Regions from separate parts of the Homo sapiens genome. Here region 2 is linked to region 1. Evidence: fine-mapped expression QTL. A gene starts in region 1. The other region holds a variant in brackets. All regions are shown on one strand. Distances are from middle to middle. Region 1 holds the start of KAT6A (lysine acetyltransferase 6A). Region 2 overlaps KAT6A (lysine acetyltransferase 6A).

What was found. PIP is the estimated chance that this variant, and not a neighbour inherited with it, causes the effect.
Region 2: its variant is the best candidate, but not a certain one, in a credible set for the expression of KAT6A in whole blood (TOPMed, PIP 0.72).

What each region holds. Positions count from the first base shown.
Region 1 is chr8:42,046,273-42,058,307 of GRCh38, forward strand. It overlaps KAT6A (lysine acetyltransferase 6A), which reads right to left and starts at 5,715. Exons shown (of 17, transcript NM_006766.5): 1 at 5,629-5,715; 2 at 2,106-3,030. The coding sequence starts at 2,705. KAT6A-AS1 (KAT6A antisense RNA 1) reads left to right here and starts at 5,478. Exons shown (of 2, transcript NR_136589.1): 1 at 5,478-5,713. RefSeq lists silencers at 4,809-5,278, 5,379-6,008, 6,199-6,358, 8,319-8,613 and enhancers at 5,807-6,328, 6,329-6,849.
Region 2 is chr8:41,965,285-41,977,319 of GRCh38, forward strand. It overlaps KAT6A (lysine acetyltransferase 6A), which reads right to left. Exons shown (of 17, transcript NM_006766.5): 7 at 11,724-12,035; 8 at 9,420-9,538. Among named protein-coding and RNA genes, the nearest start is that of KAT6A-AS1, 80 kb to the right of the region's middle. The variant C/T (reference allele first, on the strand shown) is at 5,890.

The sequences.
Region 1 (12,035 bases):
AGCCTGTAATCCCAACACTTTGGGAGGCAGAGGCGGGTGGATCACTCGAGGTCAGGAGTTCGAGACCAGCCTGGCCAACAAGGTGAAACCCCGTCTCTACTAAAAATACAAAAATTAGCCGGGCGTGGTGGTGCATGTCTGTAATCCCAGCTACTTGGGAGGCTGAGGCAAGAGAATCGCTTGAACCTGGGAGGCGGAGGTTGCAGTGAGACTGCACCACTGCACTCCAGCCTGGGTGACAGAACGAGATTCTGTCTCAAAAATAAATAAATAAAAGCAAACAGGTGGCCTAACAGGAACTTATAACATCCAATTCACAGGTATGGCACTGAACTGATCTAACTATAAATTATTTCCTGTTTCCAGGCAGTTAACCTGTTAGATCATTTAATAATTGTAGAAATCCGATAACTGTATTTAAATTCAGCCACATGTGATAAAGTTTCTACAGGTAAGAGTTCTTACAGCACTTAAATATAGAATAAAGCATTTTAATTACTTGTCTACCCTGAATTTTTAATATATACTTTTAATAAATGCTCAAATTACATAGAGCCATTTTATGAATGAGATTCTCTATCAATTCATGACTGTATGAGAATCATTTCAAGGGTAATAACAGTAAGATTATGTTTTATTTCAATGTTCACAGGGAAAATTGAACCCTGAAATAGATCTCTAAAAATTTCATCAAAGAAAAATACCGTTAATTTTCAATTGTTAAAGAAAAATCTACAGGTATTCAGTGGGCTGCTAATAATACAACAAATTGAGATCAAATCTCCAATTTTCAAAATACATTCAATGTTAACTTTACCATCTTTCCACCCTAGGAGTATCCTCCATCATCTTAAGCAAAATGAAGATCATTTTACTTATGTCTACCAAGGTGTGCAGCAACTTAAAGCATCACTGCTCTCCAAGGAACTATAATTCAGAGCACCTTAAGTAAATTTACAGCTAAGATACTAGGTCAATGTAAAAAACAGGTACTAACAAAATTCTCCTAATCTCCAAATATCTATTTAAGCACCAAAATTTACTGTTTAAGAAGTCATAATTTCAACTATATACAATAACATCCTAAAACACAACAGAGTAAAGTACACATCTGGGCATCAAAACTCCCAACTCTCCAGAACTTTACCTTTCTTTTTGTTTTTAGAACAGGGTCTCAGTTGTCCAGGCTGGAGTGCAGTGGTGACAGCATAGCTCACTGGAGCCTCAGACACCTGTACTCAAGCAATCCTCCCCGACACAGCCTCCCAAGTAGCTAGGACTACAGGCGCGCCCATACCTGGCTAATTTTTCTATTTTTGGTGGACGTGGGGTCTCGCTATATTGCTCAGGCTGGGCTCAAACTCCTAGGCTCAAGACATCCTCCTGTCCCAGCCTCCCAAAGCGCTGGGATTACAGGCATGAACTACTGTTCCAGACCCTCCAGAACTTTTCTAGTTTAGGATACTGTATTCCTGTCCCATGCAACTACAGCTGTCATAAATAGCATTTAGGACTTCATCATATGCAAAGCCATAATACATGACAGAAAGCTATAATACAAACAGCAGAAACAAGAATTGCTAAGTTTGCTTAGTTGCGCCTATGGGTCATGAGAATCTGTCTCATTTCTGTCTAACGAGTAATCTGCAACAAAATGGAAAACAGAAAAATGTTCTCAGAGTCATCTGCTTGTTTCAAATTCAAGTCTCCATGATTTGGCTGCTCATCAACTTCCAGTAGTAAGGTGTTCTAAGAACCTTTAGTTAAAGTTTTAAAGTCTCACGCTGGAGTACTCCTCAAGCAAAATAATAAAAAAAAATTTAAAAAAAAGTTTTAAACTCATATGTCACTTTTTCATTGTAATGTAAATAAGTTCTTTTAGTCAGATTAACATTCTACATTTTTAATCTTAGGCTTCAAATATTTCAAAGTACCAGAACAAATCTATGAAGCTCTCATAGCTACAACTCACCAATAAAAAACCAGAGGTGATCACTCCACAGAAGTCCCCAAACAAAAAACTTGAATATAACTTCCCAGAAATGTGAATTTGTAGCATCCTATATCATCAGCTCTATAAACCCCGAAGCATATGCCATTCTTACCTTATCCTTTTCATGTGGAAGAAGGGACACTGGAGGTAAACAGGAAAGAGACTCACAACTCTCTTTCCCATCCACGTTGGTTGCTTTAGTGTTGAGCCGATAAAGAGGTCCATCTTTAAGGAGTCTGCCGTGGCCAATGGCACGTTTGATAGCCAATCGTAACTGCTGGTGAAAGCCAGAGGCAGCACTGCCTCCGAATAATGCAGACACATCCTTCTGACCTTTCAAAAAACGTTCAATGCTTTTCAAAGTTGAGCCACCAGACTCTGCCAAGCCCTCAACTGCCCGCTTTATCAGTTTATTCCAATCCACATTTTGTTTATTATCCAATTTTCCATGGTTCCGAGGCTTAGGAAGTGCTATTCGCCCAGGATTATCAGGATCTTTATAGGAATTGAGTCCTTTATTTGAGACTTTTAAAATTGTTCCATCTTTAACACTCAACTCCAATTGTTCTAAAACAGTTTTACGATCCAAGCCATGGGATGAAGACACAGCATTGCATATCCTTTCTTCTGAAGGACGCTGTTTCTGCTTTTTCACTTTTTTGATGGCCTCCAAAATCCACTCAGTATAAAGCGGGTTTGCGAGTTTTACCATGGTGAAGGATTCTGTATATCCATAGAGTCGTTATCCCTTATCCTGATGCTGAGTAAGTTTTACACCATGGAAAACAAGATTCTCGGAGGCTGGGAACCAGTTAACCATAGCATATGAGTTTTCTGGCCTAAGTCCTTCCTCCTTTCACAAAACAGAATGCCACCCCAATTGTACTATAGAAACCAAAACAACCTGTTGATTGAAATGTCTTCCAACTTCCCAATGAATTTCTCAATAGCACCACACATGGGTCTCGTCATAAAGTTGTAAGAACTCAAGAATATTTCATTCCCGGCTCCAGAGCAGAAAAATGTGCATCTTATGCCTGAAAAGCAATGAAAATAAGGTCAGTTTTCTACCAAGACCTATTTCGAATGAAAATAAGCATCCTCATCATAAAGCAATCAAACAGCAAGTGTTTACTAGGCACCCTTAAGAATTTCCAAACTTATCTATTAATATTCCAAAACAATCATGTATGTAAACCATTGGGATAAAAAAGAAAAAAAAAGAAAAGAAAAAAAAAAGATGAGTAATTAGGATACAATGAGGAAACACGATGACATGTTCTAAGAATGACCTTTAAGCTACCACTAACCAGAGTGGGTGATGGCTATTCTGTACTCCGCAATCTCTGCTCACCAGTCTAGGAATTTCAACTCTTCCTTGACATCTTTCCCCAAGAAACTAGTCAGCACTTCAACAAGTATCTGGATTAGTAGAAAGAATCCTGCAATGAAAGTAAAAGTGAATCTTTCATCTTTCAAAATTCTAGACATTCAGAGTAGACAAAAACAGTCAATAAGGCAGAAAACGACTGAGAAAATTTTAGTTCTTACATGAAAAGAATGAATACAATATGCACACCCAGTTTATAATTTAAGTACAGTATTACCTTAATCTCTCCTAATGGAAACAAAAATACTATTGAAAATAGCCTAGAGTAAAAGTGCTTACTGAATTTAACAATAATCCACTTTCATTCAAATTTTAAGAATTACATGCTGATAGCTTCTCCTAACCCAAACTAAGATGTTTCTATTCATATGCTGAAGAGAGTCACAACTGTCAAACTGCGTGTAAGTAATTCAGACAGGAAAACTAGAAATGAGGAAGGCCCAGAATCACTGGGGTCAACGCACATACTACATATCAAACGGACGGTACAGAAAAAGAAATACACTGGCTACTTGTAGGACTAAAGAGAAGCCCAAATAATAAAGATATAAATTCAAGATTGCTGTCCTGAAACGAACATTAATAAAACATAAACAGAAATGTACTGTCTCTCTGAATCAAAGTCAGTATCCCTATAAAAGAATCTGGTAGATGCAATCTTGTTTAATCACTAAAGTACTGAATTCTGAATCTAACTCTTTTGCCTCCAAAAATAAGTTTAACTGAAGTGTTTTTTAGAACTTCTGCTCTCATTCTGGAGATCATTTGCATTACAATATAAACAATGCTAGACAAATGGCTCCCACAGCAACTATTCTTGGTAGTGACATTAAAATCAAACGGAAAACTAATACACACTAGGAAAGAGATATTACTATTAACTCTGATAGGAAAGAAAAGAGTGAAGCAAACATTCAAACCTGAGCCAAGATTTGTTTTTAAATCAGCTGCCTAAAAAGAAGCCCCCTGGGAGAATCATGCTTCAATTTGGTGAGGGTCTCAAGAGGATAGAAATCAGAGTATCATTACTCCAAGTAAGCTCATTATACAGATATTAAGTCTAAACTAAATGAGAAGCTACATCCTGAGTTTAACAAGCTGGGAACGAACGTCCTAATTGACTAAGCTTCGCAGGTAAAAGAATGAGTGACAGTCACTCATTGTCTTTCCAGTCGGGATTGTCATCAGTCTCCAGGTCTTCGGAAAGTCAAGCGCCTGCAGCCTCGGATCTTAACTCCCGGAAAGTACACGAGCGGCTAGAGCGAGCGCAACTCGCTTCCGACAGTCCTTCCCGTCCCCATTCCCCACCCCTAAACACGTCTTCGCGCTCTCTTTTCAAAGAGCGAGAAACTTTAAAAACTTGGATCTGCACAGCCCGGCAGCTCGCCGACGGGGCGCTGCACCGTTTCCACGCGATGGAAACAGACCCCGAGCACAAGTTAACAATGAAATCACGTGAAGGAGTTCAGAGCGGTGCATAGCCCCGGCCCAGCTCCGCACCCTAAGCTCTGGGGGCCGGCTCGAGGGCGGCGCGGGTTGCTGGGAGCCTGACAGTCGCGCACCGGGCCAAGCCGCGAGGTTGACAGGCGCCCGGCCTCCCCTCGGCGGCTGGGCTGACAGCCCGGCAGACACAACACCACACGTGCTGCGCCTCGCACCACAACACCCGCCGGCCTGTCAGCCCCGCTCGCCGCCTCAGCCCCGCTCGGATCCCCGCGCCCCCGGCCGGAGCCAAAGCCGGAGCCGGAACCCGAGCCCGAGCCCGAACCCGAGCGCCCGCGAGCGCGGGGAGAAGCGGCCCGGCCCGGCACAGCCGGCACGCGCGCGGCGGGCGGGTGGGCGCGCCCCGAGGGAGAGCGGGCTCGCCGGCTCCGCCAGCCCGAGGCTCCGCGGCCTGGGCCGCTCGCCGCCCGCCCACCCGCCGGCTCCCCCAGGGCGGGCCCGGCCGGCGGGATCGGGGGCGCGGGGCCCGCGAGCGCGGGGCCGGGCGGCGGCGCGCGGGCCGCGGGCCGGGGCAGCCGGGCGCCGAACAAGCGAGCAAGCGAGCGAGCGAGCGGGCGGGCGCGAGGGGGCGGCCACGGCGCCCCAGCCCGAGGCCTGGCGCAGAGCAGCGGGAGGCGGCGCAGGCCGCGGCGGGGCCTGCAGCGGCCCGCCGACCCCGCGAGGCAGCGGAGTGGGCCCTGGAGCGGCTCGGCCTCGGGCTGGGCGGCCGGGGGCGGCCGGGAACGGCCCCTCGGCTACTTACCGGGAGGAAGGACAGCCGAGATCCCGGGGCCCCGGGCCGGACCGCGGAGATGCCCCAAACTGACACGGCCGCCATCTTGGAGACAGTGAGCTCCAGCCGGGGGGAGGGGAGGCAAGGCGGCGGAACAGCCGCGGGGGGAGGGGAGCGTCGCGAGGGAACGGCGGCCTGGGGGAGGGAGCTGGAAGAGCCTGGGCGGGCGGCGAGGGGAGGCGGAGGCCCGGCAGCGCGGGTGGGGGGCGGCCGAGAGCGGGAAGAGCTGGGCCGAGAGCCGGGAAAGGCCGGAGGGCGGGGCGGGGCAGCAGGGAAGAGCCGGCCGGCGGGGTCACGTGGGGCCGGTACAAAAGGCCAAAGCCAGGGGAGGAGGAGGACTTGGTGGGGCTGGAGGCTGGGGAGCGGGGGTTCCTCCTCTCCCGTCTCACGCGTTTAAGTCAGACGGCGACCCGGGAGAGGAGGAGCTGGTGCACCCCATGCCACCGCTGGGGAAACTGAGGGCAGGAGTCTGGGTGGGGTGGCTTCAGTGTGGCACGGAAATCCGGCAGCCACGCAGGATGGGAACTCTCGGCGGCGTCTGTTTACAGTTAGTGAGCCCTCCCTCCCCACTCATTTGCCTGCACAGCGACTTTCCGGAGCCCGAGGGCGGGGCCTGGGGGGCGGAGAGGAGGCGGCTTCCCGTCCTCACCCCTGGCAGCTCGCCTCAGCCCCCGACGGCTCTCCTGTGTCGGTGGGAAGAGTTGGGGAGAGGGTGGAACCAGAAGCACCCGTCTTAACCCCTTTCAGCAGTGACTTCATTTCTTCCCTCCCCCAGCAGCTGAGAGGGTTCTTGGAGCTCACTAGAGCCATTTTATGGGAGACTCCACAGACCTGGGTCGTGTGACTTGGACAAGGTCACACAGCTAGTATGTGGCGCGCACCTGAGCCTGGGACTGAGATTTGTCTTATTCCAAAGCCGGTCTTCCCTTCTTGCCCTGTGCGGAACTCTTGTCCATACTTAGGGCGTTGGAACCACGAGCAGGCGGTTCTTCATGGCCTGCCTGTCCACTACTGGCTGTATGGACGTTTCTTTGTCTTGCCTTTCATCTACTTTAAACTCTTTGATGCAGAGACTGAGTCATACTTTTTTTTTTTTTTTTGAGACAGTGTCGCTCTGTTGCCCAGGCTGGAGTGCAAGTGGTGCGATCTTGGCTCACTGCAACCTCCGTCTCCTGGGTTCAAGCGATTCTCCTACCTCATCCTCCTGAGTAGCTGGGACTGCAGGCGCCCGCCACCACGCCTGGCTTATTTTTGTATTTTTAGTAGAGACGGGGTGTCACTATGTTGGCCAGGCCGCTGGTCTCGAACTCCTGACTTCAAGTGATCCGCCCTCTTCGGCCTCCCAAAGTGCTGGGATTACAGGCCTGAGACACTGCACCTGGCCAAGTCATGCATTTTTTTTTTTTCTGCATTCACTAGAAAGACAGTAGACATGAAAAAGACACTAAATGTTTAATCGTTGACATGGACGTGTATCCTGCTGCCTGACCTTTATCTGCCCTGTCCCCAACCCCATACGACACACCCCGCCTAGACTGTCGCCCGCAATACCTCATTTTATCTCAGCTTTAGCTTTTAAGGGCCTCCCTCTCACCCACTGCCTTAACTTCCATGCTGACTTCCTTTTCTGAACTTCTGTAGTAGTATCATTTGCTCTAGTCATTTTGCACTTACATGTGATATATATATATATATATATATATTCCGAATACATTCACTGGTAAATGCTCTCCTATAATGACTCTGCATCTCCAGCACCTAGAATAATGTTGTACAAGTACTGTAGTAGGCGGTTTAAAATAAAAAAATGTTGCTCGTGAATGAACAATTTTTTAAGCCGTTAAGAAAGCCGTTTGTGGCGGGGCGCTGCTGTAGCCCAGCTACTCGGGAGGCCTGCTTGAGCCCGGGAGTTCCAGGCTGCAGTGAACTATGATCGCCACTACACTCCAGCCTGAGAGACACAGCAAGAGGGAACCCAAACTTTTCTATCTATCCCGTCTCCACTCTAATCCATAGCCCTACCCTCCATACGGTAGACTCTGGACCATTCAGTAAGAATAACGTAACTTTTCAGATCATGGTCCAGCCTAATCAATATCCTGACACTGACAGAAACAGAAGTGTAATGTAGTGAGGTTGACTGAGTTGCCATTCATCGCCTACTTCCAAGCCCCATCTCCAAAGCAGTAGAGAAATTTGGAATACATGATAATCCAATAGAAAGGATCTCTTTCATCCTAGATGAATCAGATAGACACATTCTCAGGTAAAATGGTCCCTGTTTGTAATGAAATCACCTCCAGGAAAAAAAAAAAAAAAAAAAAAAAAAAAAATATATATATATATATATATATGTATTTTCTTTTAGTAGAATAGGCAGATTTTTATTTCCCAAAGAGGGCAGATAAAGTCATATTAATGCAAAGACAATGAGTTCTTCATGTGAGACTAGAGTGTGTGGCCTTCAGAAGAAAAATAATACAGAGATGAGTTGTGTTTACTTTTGGATAATTTGGAAGAAAACTAGCCACAGCCATCCTGTGAAAAGACCAAACTGGGGATTAAACAGTAGCAAGAATTTAAAACAATTTATAACAACAAAGCACAGTTGAGCTTTTCACACAGCTTCCATAAAGAGTCTCTGCTTTACATTTGCATAACTAAATGGCACATTCAGGAGGTCTTCTCAAAATAAAAATCTTGCAACAAAGACGGATTAAAGTCCTCATCATTTGCAAGTTAAAAAGCAATCTGCACTCTGAAAGGATAGTTTTTCTTAGCTCAAACTTTACTCACGATTCAGCCCTGTGGAGCTGGCAACTAAAGGTTATTTCCCCCTTGCATATTTTGCTCTAGGAATCCCTGCCTTTTCACTTGTACTTGGTACTTGTGTCTTATACAGAGTCCATGCCAGCCTGAAATTGGAAGTTTGCTCTGTCCTGGTTTCAACAGGAAACATTTTTAGTCCATTTACATTTAATATAATTACTGGTATATGTGGATGTATGCCTACCATCTTACCATTTATTTTGGATCACCTATTTCACATTCCTTGTTCTCTGCTTTTTGCCTTCTTTTGAATTAATTAAAATATTTTAACTATATCATTAACCCCCTCTATTAATTTTTAAATTATACATTACTAGTTTTAGAGATTACAACATTGCTTTTTGACTTATGATCTTATACAAAATAATTACTTTTACCACTTCCCCGGGAATGCTAAGACATTAAAATACTGTATCTCCACCTACCCATCTCCCTTTTGTGTTTATTGTCGTCAAGGATTTTAATTGTGTGTGTATTTTAAGCCACACAAGAATTTATACTTATTGTTCTGTACAATAAGTACTCATTTAGATTAACCTCCATATTTATCCTTATATTGCTCTTCATTCCAATATGCATTTCTGTGCTTCTGTCTGAAGGTTTTCCTTCTATTTGAATAATTCCCCTGTTTTACAGCAGGTCTGCTGATGACAAGTTCTCTCCAAGGTTGTTTGAGTTTTTGCTTTTTGTTTTTTGTGGGGTTTTATTGCCTAAAACTTTGCATTATCCTTCATATTTTTGCTGGGTATAGCATTCTGATTTGGCAAGTTTTTTTTGTTTTTTGGTTTTTTTTTCCCAGCACTTTGAAGATGTTCTTCCATTGTCTTCTGGTTTCTGTCACTCCCTTTTATTCCTTTGAAAGTAATGTCTTTTTTCCTTTGACTCCTTTTAGGATTTTTTCTTGTCTTTGGTTGTCAACAGCTTTACTATGACGTGTGTAGATGTGGTTTTCTTTGTATTTATCCTACTTGGGTTCATGAGTGCAATGGGTGTATGCGGAGTCCCTTGCATTTGTGGGTTTATATCTTTTAGGAAATTCTTGATCACTGTCTCTTCTCTCTCCTTTCCTTTTAGGGTTTAAATTATACATATGTCAGAATTTTTCATTGTTTACCATCTGTATTTCCTATCATCTTTTTTCCCCCATTTTTTTCTCTATGCATGAGTCGGTATATTTTCTATTTAATTGTGTACTTTTAAACCCATTTGTGAATTCTTTATTTTGTTTATTATATTTTTAAGTTCTAGAATTTTCATACGATTCTTAAAATCAAATTCATTTGGAGAAATTATTTATTTATATATGTATTTTCTCTGCTGTTGCCTTTATTTTCTTGAACATATCAATCCTAGATTTTTTTTTAACCCTAGATATTTTAAAGCTCTTTCCAATCATTACAATAGCTGAATCTTCTGTGGATCTATTTCTATTGTATATTCTTTCCATTGGTTTCGGTCATTTTTTTTCCTGGCTCTTAGCTTGCCTGAGAATTTTTAATAGGATGTCACACTTTCAAGTATGAAAAATTGCAGAGGCTCTGGATAGTATTATCATCATCCAGAGAAGGATTCCTACTGTCCTTTGCAAAGCATTTAGAGTGAGAGCTAACCACCTTAATCAACCAGAGACTGAGTTAACTTGGGGTTGGGTTTTGGCAAGATTTAATTCACCTCTTTTTTGCTGCTGCTCCAGTAGCATAAGCCTCCAGGGGTTCCAACTGAGAGTCGTGTGTGTTCCCTGGGACCCTTCATCCCAGTGGATACTGAACTCTAATTCTTGTTTCTGCAAAACCATGAGACGGTCAAAATCTCTTCACTCTGCTTTTCAGAGCCTTTCTGCTAAGCTTCTTAACCTTCTGTCTCATGCATCTTCAGAATTTGGAAAATGACTTGAGGGAGACTGACATTATTGGGCTCAATTATTTACCCCTCCCTTCTCACTGGGAATCTGGCCCCTCTTGTTCTTAAGTTTGTCTCTCCAACTCTGCTGAACTGACAGAATCATCCCTGGTGGTGTCTTTGCCTGTTAGGGCCTCTTTCTATACTCAGAACCAAAACTCAGACTCTGGCCTTATGCCCAGAATTTCCCCAAGGAATGAAGGTACTGCTGAATGTCAGCTCACCTCTATGTATAGTTTCCCCTTCTCTGAGATTGTGTCCTCATAAGTTCTGGTTGCCTCAGCAGCCTTCAAACAGATGTTTTATGTTTTAGCTGGCTCTCCTAATTGTTTTCAGCTGGATTATTGGTTGGCTATAAGTACCCCCATCGTACTCAGAACCAGGAAATGTTTTTCATATGAAATGATCTTGCCTTCCCCCTCAGTAAAAAAAAAAAAATGTCTGAACAAGGCTCTGCTTGAGGTATCAAGATATGGTTTACAACACTCTCAGTGTATCAGAATCATCTCAGTACTTTTTAATAAGTAAAAGAGTCCAGAATTCCACACCAGACCTACTAGATCCGAATTTCTGAGAGATTAATTTGGCTCTGTATTTTAAAATGCTTTCCAGGTATGAACATTTGCTCTGACAACAATTGAGTCATGGGGACTGGATTTATCCTTCCCTCTTAAACATCTGGAAAAAAAATAATAATGGTTTTCTGACAAAATATATGAAACAATGGTTTTTAGACATTGGACAATAGACAGTGTAGGACAGTGATTAAGGTAAGAGAAGTAAACAAGTTGAGCCATCTAATTGCCCCAGCCTACTGCCTTGCAACAGTTTCCAGACCATGGGACAGGCAGTGGCAGAGCCCAAAGCCCAGCAATACTGCTGACTTGAGGAGACAAATATCAGGCTTCAGGGAGGCCGACGTAGCTAAAGTTTGGAGGACAGAGAACCAGAAAGGGGAAAGCTACATATGTATATACAACTCCAAATATCTACAGAGGGGTCCTTTTGCTTCTTTGGATGAGCATTGATTTGCACATATTTAAGAAGAGACTAATTGGAAACTAATTGGGAAAACAAACCACCAAAAAAGGGCAGGAAAAACAATTCCCAGAGCTCCCATATGAATGGAAATTGTGCCTGTTTTCACCAGCCGAATGGAAAGACCTATCTGTACATTTTGTCCTTAGTCCTCAGGAGGGTGTCATCTTGGTACTGAAAATGAATTTGCCTATATTAAAAGGAGCGTGGGAGATTTGAAGAAATAATGGCTGAAATAGTCCCAAATTTAATAAAAACTATAAACCCACAAATTCAAGGCATTCAAAGAACACGAAGCAGAATAAAAAATTGTAACCACAACAAGGCACATTATAGTAAAATTGCTGAAACCAGGCGAAAGTCTTAATATCAGCCAGAAAAAAAAGATAATACACAGGAAAGAACAAAGATAGGAATTACATTAGACTTGTTATTAGAAACTATTCAACCAAGAAAAAAAGTCTTCAGATTGCTGAAAGATTTTTAAAAATCAACCTAGAGTTCTTTACTCAGCAAAAATGTCTTTCAGAAATGGAAGAGAAAAATGTTTCAGACAAAAAAAAAAAAAAGCGGCTGGGCGCAGTGGCTCACACCTGTAATCCCAACACTTT
Region 2 (12,035 bases), 81 kb before region 1:
ACATGTCCATAAATATTATTCTTTTTATTTTTGTCCAACTGTTTAAAAATATTAAAACCATCCTCAGCTTGCAGGTCATACAAAACAGGCTGTGGATGGGACTGGGCCACAGGCCATATTTTGCCAACCCTAACACAGGTGAAGCAGTTTCTAAGCTGTATCTATGCCCTCAAAAATGACTTTCTGCATTACCTTTATGAGTCTTTTTATTATTCAAAACATCCTCTTATCTAGCCAAGATGAACTTTCCCAACTGGCTTCAAACCACTTTTTTTATTACAGCGTCAGAGAACCTGGAAGTCATCTTTGATCATCTCCTGTTCCTTCAATCTACTTTAGTTTGATAAGCATGGGTTTCAGTTAACATTGCACCATGCAAAGTGAGGAATAGCTGGAGTTTAGTTTGAGATAAGACAGGGTGGAACATCTGTTGGGCAATGGTAATACACTGAATTACTAGTATTAAGCTGCATTTTGGAGCATTTTGAAAGCTAGTAACAAGATGTCAGTTTCGGCATGACGGGATTTTAAGGTACCCCCATGACATCTTTTTGCTGTTAAGTGATGTCTCCTTGATGCTGCTGAAAGTAGGAATGGTAGGTGGGGCGATGTTTACTGTGTTAAGGCATTTACCCATTAAATATAAGTCACATATTAAAGGCCGCATAGATGTATTTTTAGTTCATTGGATAATTTAGCACAACTTATTAAAATAGTAGTTAAGAGCCTGGGAACTAGAAAAGGCTAGCACAGTTCAAATCCTATCTCGGCTGAATCACCTTAGTTGGGCAAGTCACTATCAGATTTGTTGAAAAGCTTAAACGAGTTGATATTTGCACAGAACTTACAGCACTATGCCATTCATGCAGTGAGTGCCAAATAAATGTGAGCTTCTGCTTGCTATCTCAGTGGCAGGTTCTTGGAATACACAGATAATACGTCTTTGCCCTCCAGCTGGAATTATTTATAGTAGTCTCCCCTTATCCCCAGCTTTGCTTTTCGAGGTTCTAGTTACCTGTCGTCAGCCTCGGTGCAAATTTTATCATCTCACACCGTCAGAAGAGTTAGTACAGTACAATAGTACAATAAGAGATTTAGAGAGAGACAGACTACATTCATGTAACACAATACAGTACATACAGGGTTCAGTACAGTCCACGGTTTCAGGCATCTACTGGGGATCTTGGAGCGTATCACTGGTGGATACGCGGGGACTCCTGTATAGTAGTCATTGCTTCCTCAAAGCTGAAGTTAATGTTGTTTACTCCATCTGATAAGCCCTAGTTCTCTCCATCTACCTAAATCCTCATCATTCCTTAGGACTGCTGCTTCTGTGATCATCTCAGGTTGCGCCAATTCTCACACATCTTAGTATACTGTGAACATCTGAGACAAGTCTGAATCATTTAATACAGCAATGCACTATGTTTCATTGGTACTCTAAGCTATTGTCTGCTGTGTATCTTCCTATGCACCTTTACCTGCCTGCACTTAGCACATGCCTAATGATTTTGCTACCCCCATGACATCCCGTATACAGAATAATGCAGGATGTTATTGTGATTAAGGGTACAGAATTAGAAGTCACATGGCCTAAGTTTTAATTTCGGCTCCACTAACATAAAAACTTACAGGAAGTCACTGAACTAATAGTGTTGGTTTCCTCATATGTAAAATGGGGTAACACCTCTACATCATGGGGTTAATAAAGTTGTTGAAACTAGCTTACTGTATTTTTAATAATGATTTAACTCTTCACGCAAAGAAATTTTAATAACCCGCACAGATTTCAAAAATGCTCTGTAACTTTCCAGAACCATACAAAAACCAAAGGAATCCTTCAGAATCAGAAAGCATTAAAATCTGTATGAAAATACAATGTGCTCTTTGATATTTTATGTAAAAATCATTCTATATATTTCAAGAAGGTGGTCATGCTCCACTGGAATGAACTGAATACAAACGCGTCTTTCTTTTTTTAAAAAAAAAAATTTATTTATTTATTTATTTATTTATTTATTTTTATTATACTTTAAGTTTTAGGGTACATGTGCACAATGTGCAGGTTAGTTACATATGTATACATGTGACATGCTGGTGCGCTGCACCCACTAACTCGTCATCTAGCATTAGGTATATCTCCCAATGCTATCCCTCCTCCCTCCCCCCACCCCACAACAGTCCTCAGAGTGTGATGTTCCCCTTCCTGTGTCCATGTGTTCTCACTGTTCAATTCCCACCTATGAGTGAGAATATGCAGTGTTTGGTTTTTTGTTCTTGCGATAGTTTACTGAGAATGATGATTTCCAATTTCATCCATGTCCCTACAAAGGACATGAACTCATCATTTTTTATGGCTACATAGTATTCCATGGTGTATATGTGCCGCATTTTCTTAACCCGGTCTATCATTGTTGGACATTTGGGTTGGTTCCAAGTCTTTGCTATTGTGAATAGTGCCACAATAAACATACGTGTGCATGTGACAGAGATATAGATCAATGGAACAGAACAGAGCCCTCAGAAATAACGTCGCATATCTACAACTATCTGATCTTTGACAAACCTGAGAAAAACAAGCAATGGGGAAAGGATTCCCTATTTAATAAATGGTGCTGGGAAAACTGGCTACCCATATGTAGAAAGCTGAAACTGGATCCCTTCCTTACACCTTATACAAAAATCAATTCAAGATGGATTAAAGACTTAAACGTTAGACCTAAAACCATAAAAACCCTAGAAGAAAACCTAGGCATTACCATTCAGGACATAGGCATGGGCAAGGACTTCATGTCTAAAACACCAAAAGCAACGGCAACAAAAGCCAAAATTGACAAATGGGATCTAATTAAACTAAAGAGCTTCTGCACAGCAAAAGAAACTACCATCAGAGTGAACAGGCAACCCACAAAATGGGACAAAATTTTTGCAACCTACTCTTCTGACAAAGGGCTAATATACAGAATCTACAATGAACTCAAACAAATTTACAAGAAAAAAACAAACAACCCCATGAAAAAGTGGGCAAAGGACATGAACAGACACTTCTCAAAAGAAGACATTTATGCAGCCAAAAAACACATGAAAAAATGCTCACCATCACTGGCCATCAGAGAAATGCAAATCAAAACCACAGTGAGATATCATCTCACACCAGTTAGAATGGCAATCATTAAAAAGTCAGGAAACAACAGGTGCTGGAGAGGATGTGGAGAAATAGGAACACTTTTACACTGTTGGTGGGACTGTAAACTAGTTCAACCACTGTGGAAGTCAGTGTGGCGATTCCTCAGGGATCTAGAGCTAGAAATACCATTTGACCCAGCCATCCCATTACTGGGTATATACCCAAAGGACTATAAATCATGCTGCTATAAAGACACATGCACACAAATGCTTCTTTCTACTGACAGAGTCTTTTAAGAAAAATAGTTTCTCCAAGCTCGTAAGATCATAGTTGAAATAAAATTCTAGAACAAAAACCTATACTACTAATTTTTTTATGCTTCCACTTTTGTATTCAGAGGTGGCTCTTTTTCATGGAAGTGTATGTTGTATAGCTAATGATGGAACACAGTACTAGGCAAACTACATCCATACTTACCCTACTGCCTGCAATAATTTTTTAAAAAAATTAAAACCAATAAGTGGCTGACTCCTTTTGAAAAAAATCTTGCTAAATATTTCAATTATCTTTGACTTAGATAATGTTCCATGCAAAGTTTGATTATTCAAGATAGTCCCTTCCAGACTATAAGCTCTAAGAGAACAGAAACTATGTCCTTCTGATAGCCCCTCCCCGTACCATAGTTTCTAGAACATAGCAGGCACTCAATAAACAATGTGTTATTAGTTGGATGGATTCTAATATTAATTCCTTTATCATGTCTTTTGCTGATGCTGCTGTAAGACTACCAAAGACACTGTAATAAAATCTACCTGCAAAATTTTTGAAACACAGGTTCAAGCATCATCTAAGCTATATCTATGCTCTCAAAAATGACTTTCTGCACTATATTTATGAATCCTTTCATTATTCAAAATGTCCTCTTATCTAGTCAACATGAACTTTCCCAAGTGGCTTCAAACCACTTTCTTTATTAAATTAAGTCAGAGAACCTGGAAGTCATCTTTGATCATCTCTTGCTTCCTCAAGCTACACATAAAACTCATCACTAAGTTCTGCTGATTCCAACTCCAAAATATATCTAAATCCATCCACTTCTCTCCCATTTCTACCACCACCCCTCTAGTCCTAGCTAACATCTTCTCTCATCCTGATCACCGGAAAAGCCTGCAAAGTGGTTTCCCAGCTTCCACTCTTGCTTAATTCTAAACCACTCTTTATGTAGTAGCCAAGAAAAACCATTTTTTAATGAAACAGATCTTGCTGTTTCCTTGCTAAAAACCATTCAATGTCTTCCCACTGCAATTATGATAAAAACCCCAATTCTAACTTCTGGCCTCAGTCTATTTCCCCAGCTTCACCTTATGCAACTCTTCTGTTCACTGTATTTGAGTTACACTGAACTTCAGTTCCTTAAGTTTATCAACCTCTTTCACACCCTTAGACGTTTACATAGGCAATCCACTTGTCTCTGAAATGTTCTTCTCTAGCTCTTTACTCTGCTGACTTTTGAATACTCTTTTGGAACTATGTATAAATTGTTACTTCTTCAAAAGTCTTCCCTTCTCATAAACACTCCAACCCCAACCCTCAGCAAGGTAGCCCAGCCCGTCAGAACCCCTCACTGCATTCTCATTTCCTTCCGACTATCAGTTTGTAAGTACAGTTTTATTTTTATGAGTGTTTATTATCTGTCTGTTTGTGAAACTAAAAGCTTCATGAAGGCAGAGTCTGTGTCTTTTTGTTTGCCCTATAGTTCTGGTACCAAGGCAGGTGCATGATGCTAAATGAATAAGCCTCATGGAGAAATAGCACCATCATCAGAATTTCAGTGCACTGCCAACAAAAATAAGCATGAACTAGACTTCCAAGATCTAGCTGTTTATTTCCTTGGTGCCAATACACACACAGACAATGCTGAGTTTAATCAAATGCTGGAAAGAAACATAGGATTAGCCCGATTACTGTCAATAAGCATTTACACTGTCTCCCCGAGCCTCAGCAGGGCTCAGCAACCCGTTTAACTCTCTTTGGTCATCCTTCTTGCACCTTTCTATTATTTCAACTCCTGCCCCATTTCTCCCAGAAGAAAATTTCATTCAATATCCATTCATTAAACAAATATTTACTGAGCCTTTACTATATTCCAAGTACTCAGTAGATAGCAGTGACCAAAAAGAAAGGCCTCGTTCTCACTTTTACACTGTTGGTGGGACTGCAAACTAGTTCAAGAATCATGGAAGACAGTGTGGCGAATCCGCAAGGATCTAGAACTAGAAATACCATTTGACCCAGTCATCCCATTACTGGGTGTATACCCAAAGGATTATAAATCATGCTGCTATAAAGACACATGCACATGTATGTTTATTGCGGCACTATTCACAATAGCAAAGACTTGGAACCAACCCAAATGTCCAGAAATGATAGACTGGATTAAGAAAATGTGGCACATATACACCAGGGAATACTATGCAGCCATAAAAAAGGATGAGTTTATGTTCTTTGTAGGGACATGGATGAAGCTGGAAATCATCATTCTCAGCAAATTATTGTAAGGACAAAAAAACCAAACACCGCATGTTCTCACTCATAGGTGGGAACTGAACAATGAGAACACATGGACACAGGAAGGGGAACATCACACACCGGGGCCTGTTGTGGGGTGGGAGGAGGGGGGAGGGATAGCATTAGGAGATATATCTAATGTAAATGACGAGTTAATGGGTGCAGCACACCAACATGGCACATGTATACATATA[C/T]GTAACAAACCTGCACGTTGTGCACATGTACCCTAAAACTTAAGGTATAATTTAAAAAAAAAAAAAAAAAGAAAGGCCTCGTTCTCAAGGCACTTACATTCTAGAAATAAAAAATTTAAATTCAAGAGGTGGTAGGTACTATGCAGAAAAAGCAGGCAGGTCAGGGGATAGAGTGACACAATGGGCTGTAAGCTATTTTCGTGTGGATATGAGCAAGACCTAAATGGAATGGGCAGTGAACCTACTAAATCATCGACTCTAGAGGAAGGGCCATCGAGGCAAGGTGCAGCGACTGCAAAGGCCCAAGGCAGGCATGCTTGGTGTGTCTGAGGAAGAGGAGGCGGCTGTGGCTGGAGTAGCCTGAGAGCAAAAAGAGCAGCCAAAGAGGGAGGCAGGCACAAAATCATATACAGCCTTGGAGATGAGAGAACAGACTCTTTTTTTTTTTTTTTAATTCTAAAGAAGACTGTAAGACATGAAAGGTTTTCTAAGCAAGGAAGTGGTATAATCCAACCTACGTTCAAAAATAATTACCCTGGCCGCTGTATGAAGAAAATAGACTAGAGAGTGGGGTGGTGGCAAAAGCAGAAGCAAGTTTAGTCTGGAGGCAATTATAGCAGCCTAAGCCAGAGATGACAGTGGGTTGGCAGTAGCAAATACAGACATATTCTGAAGGCAGAACCATTAGGATTTGCTGATGGACTGAATGTGAAGTATGACAGAGAAAAAAAAAATCAAGATGACATCTCTGTGGGCCTAAGCAAGTACAGGATAGAGCTACCATTTACTCTTGTTCACCACTAAAAGCCAGAATCTATGGCTACAACAGTAAGAGCCTAGAACATCTTGCTGTGGCCAGAAGTAAATAAAAATGATGATGATGTGTTAAAAGGACAGAGGAGCTTCTAGAAAGGAGTTCCCCTCTGCCTAAATTTGGAACAATTTAAGCATCAAAATAAATACTAATAGCAATGGATTATAACCATAAAATAATCTATGAGTTTAAACAAAATGAATAAACAAATAGGAAGAAGAAAAAGCTTCTCCTTACAATAGAATGCCAATTAATAAATGGCAAAGAAATGATAGAATTAGAAAATAATGTTTGGCCACCAACAAAGTAAATGATTCAGGCAAAAATCATCTCTGGATGCTAAATGTGGTAGATAAAAGTTTGATGAAAAACAGGTTATCTGCATTTCTGTCTCAAAGTATGTCCCCCCAAGATACTTAATTATAGGTAGAAAGCAATGTTAGAGAAGAAACATGGATACCACCTAAACCAGGTGGTCACTGTTAGCAGCACTTGTGATGAGAACTTGGATATTACATGCCTTCTGATGTGACACACTGAGGAGGACACAGCACACCTGTGGAATTTTCTAATCATGAAAAATAAAACAAGCTCAAAGTGATGACATTCTATAAATGACCTGTGCACTTCAAAACTGTCAAGGTCATGAAAGATAAAGACTGAGGAACTGTTCCCAATTGGAAGGAGACTAGAGAGACGTGACAACTAAATTAGATAATAGTACTTAATTTGTGTTAAATTCCTGATTTGATGATTGGACCATGGTCATGTATGAGAACATTTCTGTTTTTAGGAAATACACACAAAAAATTAGGAGTAAAGGGATATTAACACATTATGTCTGCAACTTACTCGGGAGGAGAAAAAAAAATTCTTTCAGTCAGGAAGAACATAACTACTGCCTCCTTTCAGTTCCCACTGAAGTCCATGTAGATTTCTACTAGAGTACCTATAATAACTCACTAGCATGAAAGGAAACAAGCTTTGAGGGCAACCTGCCCAAAGGAGAAGTTAGTAAATGACAGATCAAGACTTGAACCCAGATCCACCTGAATCAAAGCCAATATTTTGTTAAATCATAATACAGCAGAATGCTGAGTAAATGCGTGCTGAGTATTTGTACTGCTGTTTTATTTTTCCAAAAGTACTCACATAATGACCGACATCAACAGTCTATTCACCACCACTGGGTCTCTTAATATGAAGAGTTTTCCCTAGAACCCTCGGCATCAGCCTTAGAATTTTTTTTTTTTTTTGAGATGGAGTCTCACTCTGTTGCCCAGGCTGGAGTGGTGTGGCACGATCTCGGCTCACTGCAACCTCCACCTCCCGGATTCAAGTGATTCTTCTGCCTCAGCCTCCCGAGTAGCTGGGACCACAGGCGTGTGCCACCGGCTAATTTTTGTATTTTTAGTAGAGACGGGGTTTCACCATGCTGGCCAGGCTGGTCTCGAATTCCTGACCTCAAGTGATCCACCCGCCTCGGCCTCCCAATGTGCTGGGATTACAGGGGTGAGCCACCGTGCCCAGCCTAGAAATTCTTCTTTTCAAGATAAAAGAGAACTTGGCTTACATGGTACATTTGTTGGTGGCAAAGAAGGAAAAGACAAAAAATAAATGAACATAATCTGGAAGAGCCTTTATGATCTAGCCCCTGCACTTTTCCAACCTCACCTCCTGCCATTCTCCACACCCTATATTCTTTATCCTGAGCCATTTTAATTCCCACAATTAAGCATGTTTTCCCCTATCTTCAAGTCTATTCCACCTTCACTTCTGTTCCTTCTGATTATATAAGAACCAACTCCCTACATATCCCTTTAAGGGATATGTACAACTCCTACATATCCTTTAAGGCCCCTCAATGAATCCTCCTCTGACCTCCCCAGGCAGAAGTAGAAGCTGGCTTCCCTATTCTCCCAAAACATCAAGTATTCTATAATTGAACTTTTCATATTAATGACATTACTTATTCACAAATCTCTCCTATAGTTCAGGGAAAGAATTCAGTCATTCACTGGCATCTCCAGCATGTGGCACATAGACTCTGTCTATATATTTACGATCTTGCCATGTGTCACAAAGAATTGCAATTTTTTTTTTTTTGGAAGACAGGGTCTCACTCTGTCACCCAGGCTGGAGTACAGTGGCATGATCTCAGGTCACTGCAACCTCCATTTCCCCAGCTCAAGCAATTCTCCTGCCTCAGCCTCCTAAATAGCTGTGACTACAGGTGTGCACCAACATACCTGGCTAATTTTTCTATTTTTTTTTTGAGATGGGGTTTTGCCATTTTGCCCCAGCTGGTCTCAAACTCCCAGACTCAAGCAATCCACCCACCTTGGCAAAGTGCTAGGATTACAGGCATGAAATACTTCTTGAATTAATAAATATAGGTGTTTTATCACTCATGAGAAGCTTGTTTTTTGTTTGTTTTTGGTCAAATCCCAAATTCTTCTTCATACAGTAAGACAAAAAATAAACCAAGCTTATTTAATATTGATAGTCAAAGCCATGTGCTTATCTGCAAAACCAAAGCAGTTATCATGGGTTTGAAAGGAATATTATAAACAGCAGAACTACATATACACACAAACCACAACTATTCTGAGATTAGGCAAACTGCTGTTACTGCTTAACCCACAATGTAATTAATCTGCTGTTTCTCAGCCATGAACAAGTTGCTTGATTGTCTAACCTGAATATCCAACTTTACCTGCAGTGCTTGTTCTTGGATATCACGAAATAATTCCATATCTTTCTCAGTCATGATTTCCTGGCTCCCAAAAAGTCGCTCCTCATTTTCTTGTTTGCCATCCCAGCCATCCTGATTGTCTACATATAAAAAAAGAGCTCACATGTTAACTGTCCCCAGATTAATACATGAACTAGAAAAAATTTCAGGTCTTTATTTCAATTTGAAGAACTTAATATATAACGAAGAATATAGCATTAAACTGACTCTTAGAAGAATGCTACTCAATAAATAATATTTATGTATTAAATCTGCCTTATAGTGGAAATCCTGAATTGTCTTAAAGCTTCCTAAAAATATTATATAACTAAATTTAAACTTCATTAAAGATTACATTTTAATACACAGAAAGGCAGACAGAAAAATGATATAAGGAATATAAATTTCATTTTGAAATAGTATAAATTTGACACTTTTAGTATAGGTTTAATGCATCAACGTTCAAAAAAACCTCTTGAGTAGCTACCTTAACTGATGTCAGCAGTACTAACTCCCATCACATTCTGGGTGCCCTTTTAAAGTTAAAGCACAAACTTTAAAACACTGTCCTTTTAAAGCACAAACTCTATTTACCCAGATGATAATCATCTGGGTAAATATGAAAACGTATGATAATTATCTACTAAATGATGGAACTTCCTCAAGTTGGCAAAAAACTAGTGAAGAGAGTATTTGGGACTTATGAAGATCATTATCCTTTGCATTTGAAGATGACACTGCTGTTGGGCTCATTTGCTCTCTTTATAAGTATGGCTGAAAAGACCAATTGGTGACAGTTCTCAAGTCAACTGCACATATGGGCCATCTGTTATTAACTTAACACAAGAAGAAAAAAGTCAAGGACTCACTGTTGACAACATTCTCAAACTGGAAGAAAAAAGTACAATCTAAAGGTACTATGTGACTTTAATGCCCCCTAGTGCATGATGCATGCACCTCTCTAATACAGCATTCGGTACTTAAACTTTATAATTCATAAAGAAAATGACAGAGCCTATTAAAGCAAACGCTCACACCACTGTCAAAAATTCAATATTGGTTCTCCATATACTTGATACACTTGCTCTAACAATTTCTATTTCAAAAGCTTTCTAGTAGATTCTTCTAATAAACCGTCTCCAGTACAAATGGTTAATTCAAAAATGTCTTTCATTAGGATTTGCTCTGAGATTCTTTCCTAGTTTAATCTAAACGGATTGCATATTTTCTTAGATAAACATGCTCAGATCAGGAACTTATCTACAGGTTGATAAAGACATGAAGAGTCTTGAATGCTTAAAGAGTAATTAGTTGATCATCACTATGGTAAAAGACCAATCAATAAAGCATACAAAGGGGACTCTGACAATTACAAGGACTTTCTCTCCTGCACTGGACAATCAACCACGAATGAGAGCAGTGAATACACTCTCCCTCACCAAGGAGACATTCAGGGAGGAAACCAAGGTCAGGGAATTCTCTTGTAGTAGATGAGACACTACACCTCTGGCCCTTGTGGTCCAAAAGAGTTCATTCTCATTCTACTTTCTTCAAGCCCTTTCTACTTCCTTCACAGGGTTAGTATCTCTAAATTCAAGGCTCAGCAATAAGACTATTTTAAGCTTTAATTTATTGGACAGTTAATCAAATTCTTCTCCTCTGACTTGAATGATTTGCCACATTATTAAGTCCTCTCCACAGATGTTTTCTACTTTGAAAATTAGGGAACTTAGCCTGATACATAAGCAGCCTGGAGCTGTGGTTCTGTCTCTCCCTTTTTAAGTGCAATCCATGACTTACAACTATATTTGTCAAGATCTGAAGTAGAAAAGTCAATGACCTCATCACATCTGCAAATATTTTGGTCTTTTTTTTATGCTTAGATCAACAGCATTTCACCCAGTTCTATTCTTTCCAGTTTCCTTCCTGGAATAAGCAGGCATCATAACATTCACCATATGATTTCTTTAGTAATTTGTGAAATGTAAAGTAATCCTCAAGGTTACACCCCAAGTTTCTCTAGGCAGATTCTTTGTGGTTCTACAAAAAAGCAGCTTCCTTTTGCCTAAGAGTTCCTACTGTCCCATTCTGCAACTTTATTTCCATCCTCTAAATTCCTGCCACAGTTATCACCTCAGTATCATCTACATGTTTTTTCAATGTGTTCTTATATTCTATAACCAATTGTTAATAATCAAATATAAATCCATTATAGATAATTAGTGTTATCCCGAATAATACATGTACAGAATACTATTTGTTTCTAAGTCTGTTCTAAACTCTTACCTGTGGGCCAATCTGAAGTGCTTGATTTCCTGTTGCCCCTCTTTCTGATTCGATATTGCTCAGAGTAGTCCACCACTTCCCCCCGAGCTTTCCGCCCATCAGGGGAAGGGGTAAAAAATTTGGTAAGGCCATCAATGAGCCCTTTGGTTTTCTTGTTGAACTTCAAGGAGACATTGCTATCTCTGCAGAAGTCCAAGCCATCTATCCGCTCTAAATATCCTTCTTCTGATGATGATGATGCTGATTGGCTGGAAAGAGTGATTTTTCGTTTCCTACCCCTTCCAGGGCCAGTTCGAACTTTGCTGAAGGGAC